Linked DNA regions of Homo sapiens: region 2 is linked to region 1. The links come from fine-mapping of genetic effects on gene expression. A gene starts in region 1. The other region holds a variant in brackets. All regions are shown on one strand. Distances are between the middles of the regions.

What was found.
Region 2: its variant is fine-mapped to the expression of CWC25 in lung (TOPMed, PIP above 0.99).

The regions. Positions count from the first base shown.
Region 1 is chr17:38,823,735-38,826,521 of GRCh38, forward strand. CWC25 (CWC25 spliceosome associated protein) reads right to left here and starts at 1,587. Exons shown (of 10, transcript NM_017748.5): 1 at 1,432-1,587. The coding sequence starts at 1,449. It overlaps MIR4727 (microRNA 4727), which reads left to right and starts at 2,104; the gene lies at 2,104-2,158. RefSeq lists an enhancer at 295-926.
Region 2 is chr17:38,796,037-38,798,823 of GRCh38, forward strand. All of the region lies in intron 1 of PIP4K2B (phosphatidylinositol-5-phosphate 4-kinase type 2 beta), which reads right to left. Among named protein-coding and RNA genes, the nearest start is that of PIP4K2B, 2.1 kb to the right of the region's middle. RefSeq lists an enhancer at 2,697-2,787. The variant T/C (reference allele first, on the strand shown) is at 1,712.

The sequences.
Region 1 (2,787 bases):
CTAACCCTTCCCATCTTGTCCTCCCTGCCTCAAGCATAGATTATTTTGCTCCCCAGGGAGAAAATCTTCTGGAGTCATTTTTGGCTGTCACAACTGGTGGAGACGGGTGTTAGTGGATAGCTCCAGTCTAGTGGCTAGAGGCCAGTGATGCTGCTAAACATTCTACAATGCACAGGACAGCCCAACTACCACCACTACCACACACCCCCAAAGAATTATCTAGGCCAAACTGTCAAGAGCGCTAATGTTGAGAAACCCTGGATTAGAGCTTTCCTGTCCTTAAATGCAGTTATGTGAAGAATACACTAAATTGGATGAAACTAGATGGAGTCCTGGCACTCACTGTGATTGAGAACACATGACAAACTAATAGGTTTACTGGGCAGGCGGCTAAGCTGATCTACTTGCTGGTTCAATTAGCTCCACTTTCCGGAGGCTAGCATTTTCCCAACCTTGCCCCATGCTCTTGTGGGTACATTTACCCTATTTGGGGCCTTAGCGCTTTACAAATGAACGTTTCAGTTTAAGAGACATTGCCACATAACTTATATTAAGTGGTATGAATTCAAAAGCAAGCTCTGCCACTACAGATCAGAATCCAGCACTGAAGGAGGTGTGGAAGTCAGAAAGATGGACAGGAAGATCCCTTCAGGCTTAAAAAGGACCCCAGGGCCGGGCGCTGTGGCTAACCCTTGTAATCCTAGCACTCTGGGAGGCCGAGGCGGGCGGATCACTTGAGGTCGGCAGATCGAGACCAGCCTGACCAACATGGAGAAACCCTGTCTCTACTAAAAATACAAAATTAGCCGGGTGTGGTGGCGCATGCCTGTAATCCCAGCTACTCGGGAGGCTGAGGCAGGAGAATCGCTTGAACCCAGGAGGGAAAGGTTGCGGTCAGCCGAGATCGCGCCATGGCACTCCAGCCTGGGCAACAAGAAACTCCGTCTCAAAAAAATAAAAAATAAAAAACGACCCCAGGGCATGGCTTAGGGTAGGGAGAATGGGGCACAAACCACCCCTACTTCAGTCCAGGACATGACTCTGAACTCTCACCCAAGGAAGAGAGGTGTGTGGCAAGACAAGATATACAAAACAAAGTGTGGTGACACGTCCTCCATATCTACCTCCTTTCCTAGCCATGGCTCCATCCGCCCCCTCCCCGGTCTTCCCAGAATTTACAGCCGGTAGAGCCGCAGTCAACAAACACGCAAACACCACCTGTCACTGTTCGCGACACACCTCGGACTTTCCCAAATCTCAGTCCCACCCCTCCATTGCCCTAAGGATCCATCCCCTCTTCAGGGCAACGGCCTCCTCCCGGCGAAAGCAAAGCTGCGTTGCCATGGTTATCCACTCCTTCCTCTACCCCCACCCCCTGCCAATTTCCGTCCCGGCCTCAGTCCTCCCCCGCCCAGGCCTCCCTCCACTCACCAGGTCTCCGCCCCCCATGACGGTGGAGACGATTCCTCACTACGCGGATCTGGAAGATTTCGGGAGGATCAAGAGAAAACGTAGAGAAATAGTTCGGGGGCTACCTCGCGGGATCTAGTCCCAGGAGCCGTCAACTGCCAGTTTCACCACCGCTCTAGAGGTCACTTCCGGGAGGGCGTCATCTCACCGCGTCGGCGTCGCGGAACGATGACGTACAGGGCTCGGTCGCGCTTTGTGACGTTGGCGTTACTTGCAGATTTTGCAAAGGTCCGGGCTCCGCTGTCGAGGCCTTTGCTGTCGAGGTCTCATTTTGGCTGCTTCGGGTCGCCACGTTGCCTGATGTCCCAGACTCTCTGTTGAAACGCCACAACTCTGTTCAGTGATGGGTTGCCGTGGGCCTGTGCCCACGGCTGTGTTGCCATGGCAGCTCACCAGGGCATTCGGCTCAAAGCTCCACGTAGTCTCTGCTAGACCTAAGGTGGACCAGACTAGGCCTCCTCCCCTCACCCTGCACACACCCCCACGCTCCAGTTTTCCAAAACGGCTTTGCAAACTGGCGCTTTCCTCAGACCTTGACTCACAGCAAATCCCCTTATGCCAGGCCTATTTTACGAAGCTAAATAGAAACCATCAAATCGAAATTCCATCAGCTTCCGTTTGCCAAACTTTTAAAATCTGCCAGCTTCCACAGTGGCAGATTTTCCCATAGTGGGAAGCTGGCAGATTCCTTTCCCTTCAGTTACTATGTGTTTTTGGCATGTTTTTCTTTTTTCTTTTTCTTTTTCTTCTTCTCCCTTTGTTTTTGTTTTTTGAGAAGGAGTTTTGCTCTCCCAGGCTGCGGTCGAAGCTGACTGCAACCTCCGCCTCCCGGACAGCAATTCTCCTGCCTCAGCCTCCCAAGTCGCTGGGATTACAGGCGCCCGCCACCCGCCCGGCTAATTTTTGTATTTTTTGTAGAGACAGGGTTTCACCATGTTGCTCAGGCTTGTCTCGAATTTCGACCTCAAGTGATCTCCCCGCCTCAGCCTCCCAAAGTGTTGGGATTACAGACATAAGCCACCGCGCCTGGCTATTTTTATTTTTGTAGCAACAGGGTTTTGCCATCTTACCCAGGCTTGTCTCAAACTCCTGGACTCAAGCAATCCTCCTACCTCGGCCTCCTAAAGTGCTGGGATTACAGGTGTGAGCCACTGCGCCCGACCTGTTTTGTAATTTTCAGAATAGAAGTTTTGCACATCTTTTGTTAAATTTATTCTAAATGTTGTATTTTTTGTGATGCTATTTTATTTATTTATTTATTTATTTATTTATTTATTTATTTATTTATTTATTTATTTATTTCGAGACGGAATCTCA
Region 2 (2,787 bases), 28 kb before region 1:
CTGAAGCAGGAGAATTGCTTGAACCCGGGAGGTGGAGGTTGCGGTGAGCCGAGATTGCACCACTGCACTCCAGCCTGGGTGACGGAGTGAGACTCCATCACAAAAACAAACAAACAAACAAAATCACAATGAGATACGAATTCACACCCAACAGAATGGCTTTAATAACTTTAAAAAGACAATAACAAGTGTTGACAAGGATGCAGATACTGGAACTCTTATACACTGCTGGTAGACATGTAAAATGGTACAGCCACTTTAGAGAACAGTTTGGCAGTTTCTCAAATGGTTAAATACAGAGTCACCATCAACTGCTCCTGCTCCTCTGATCCCTGTGGTAAGGCTTCACACATACCTGGTTCTTAAAATGGCCAACAAGTATCAAGTCAGGTCTACCTCCCATGGTCTCCATGCTCCTCTCTGAGGCCATCTCTTCCCTAATTCCAAACCCTCGGAACTGTATTTCATCCACTAAAACACTGGTTTTTGCTCTTCACTAGTTCTTCCCTGACAGGTGCAAAGTCTTCTGATTTTTCTCCTTGTTTCCTACACATTCTTCCTCCACAAAATCCATGGGCTCTTGTCCATGAGAGCAGCTCCTGTGACAACACCAAGTTCAAAGTCCTCTCTTTTTCCACCTAGAAGTAAACTAATCACCTCATGAAAGGGTAACTAACTTCTGCTGTAGATAAAGACATATCCATCCTTCCTATCTGAAACACCATTAGCCACAGACCAGCATGCCTAAATGCCTAAACAGGTGAGAAACTAAAGAAAAGGTGGTATCTGAAATCTCAGATGACAAAATGTTACAAAGTAGGCTTTTTTTGAAGGGAGGAAATCTCCAAAAAAGTGCAGCAGTCCACCGAGGGCAATGTGGTCCTGATCCCTTAGACGAGTGCAAGATTACACTCTTCTTCTAGGCAGATGTCTCAGTTCCCAAATGGGGACACTGAAGTATCAGACCTTACTGCAGACCAGGATGAAGCAATAAAACTTACGACTAACTGGCCTCTGAAGCTTAGCCTGTCCAGGGCAGTGGTGGGAAGTTCCCATGAGATGCCTGTTCATTATGTCCAGAGGCACGGATCTTGCTTAAAGTCAATGCCTTTCCAACTAGCCCCTCAAACAAACTTTCAACTTAAAGTTAGCAAAGAAAAAAGATGACCACTTTGTCCAACAGAGTAGGACTCACAGGACTCCTGACTCGTGATACCTAACCATCAGCTATTGAGAAACTTCATAACCACATATGGACAGACTCATGCCTGCCTATCGGAACACCATGCATCACACACACTCCCAGGACCTGACATGCATAGGCGTATAACCCAGAGCATATATTCACCTTCTCTAACCGGACTATACTTCGCATCTATCCTGAGACTTGGCTGAGGGAGAGGAAAAGAAACAGGAGGCAAAGAAAACAAGACCAGCCACTCAGGCACCACCCTTGGCCGATACAGTCCCATGGTGCTAGACAATAAGCGACATCTCTTGCTGTAACCACAGGCAAGCTAATCCTCCACCTGAGGCCTCCTTTTCTTCATGTGTAAAATAAGGGACCCAAGGTTCATTGCAGCTAGCTGTAATACTCCTGACTCTCAGGCCTCTACCAGTTCTCTACAGACAGGTTGCTTTCTGTGAGAAACAGAACCAGCAGAGAGAGGCCTGGTAGAGTGAGAAGCAGGATGCAGAACAAAATCAAGGA[T/C]TGACTTCCAGAAAGGGACATGGGGTTCATATTCTGATCACCCAGTTTCCCTAGAAATGTTGTCAGATGACCCCTGGGACAGCAGGAAGACCGAGTAACAAACTGGGCTGGATTGTTGGCCCGAAGCAGCTCCTAGAGGTCTGGGCATTATACCACTGGTACTCGCTATCCTGGCAGGACCCTCACTAACACCAGTGATGACAGTGAAAACAGTAACCTGCCCAAGACCAAGAAACCACAGAGACCTCAATTTACACATGCACTTTCCTAAATGACAGGTCAAGATCTAAAACCCTAGCTCAGATTACGGTTCATCGATCTCCACCCAAAGGCACCTTCAGCTCCTCTGCCAAAGCAATGCAAAGTCTTGCTGGCCCTCTTTGTCATCGCTTGGTCTTGTGAGCAATTTCAAGCACTCACAAGTGAACCTAAAGAACTGAAATCCACAGGAAACCCAAGCTTGATCCTCCTTATTCCAAAATTCTAGTTAGTGAAGTTGGTGTTTCGGGTCCTTTTACTTCCTCTGCTCATTCCTAGTGTGGGGATTCATAAAGAAATGGTCAGAAGGCAAAGAGCAAGTGGTTGGAAGAGGGAGAATAAAGACCCTGAACAAACACCACATAAACAGTCTTCCAGCTTAAACTGTCAGGATCCAACTTCCTGGCAGGGGCTGTTGAACAATCTCAAAGCACCCTAAGGACCCAGGGGACCTATCTCTCCTATCTAGGACCATAATCACTATGCATCATCACAACATTGCAGCCACACAACAGATAAGTCAACATCTTTAAAATGATCACCTTCAAAAACTATGGGAAGACATATTATTTCTACTATGAATAGTCCCTCCTTATAACCAGGCATCCTCTTCTCTCAAATGGTTAATAGCCATTCTTTCTTCTCCCTAACCCAGAGAGACCCAGGTGAAGTGTCTGGTTCAAGGAAGCCTGTGCTTCTCCAGTTGATACATCTTGTTCAAGAGGGAAAAAAAAGGAAACCCAGGGTGGAGTTCTACATTCAAAGGTAAGGAGGCCTGGAGGATGGAAGAATTTGAGCAGCCACAACAACCAAACGAT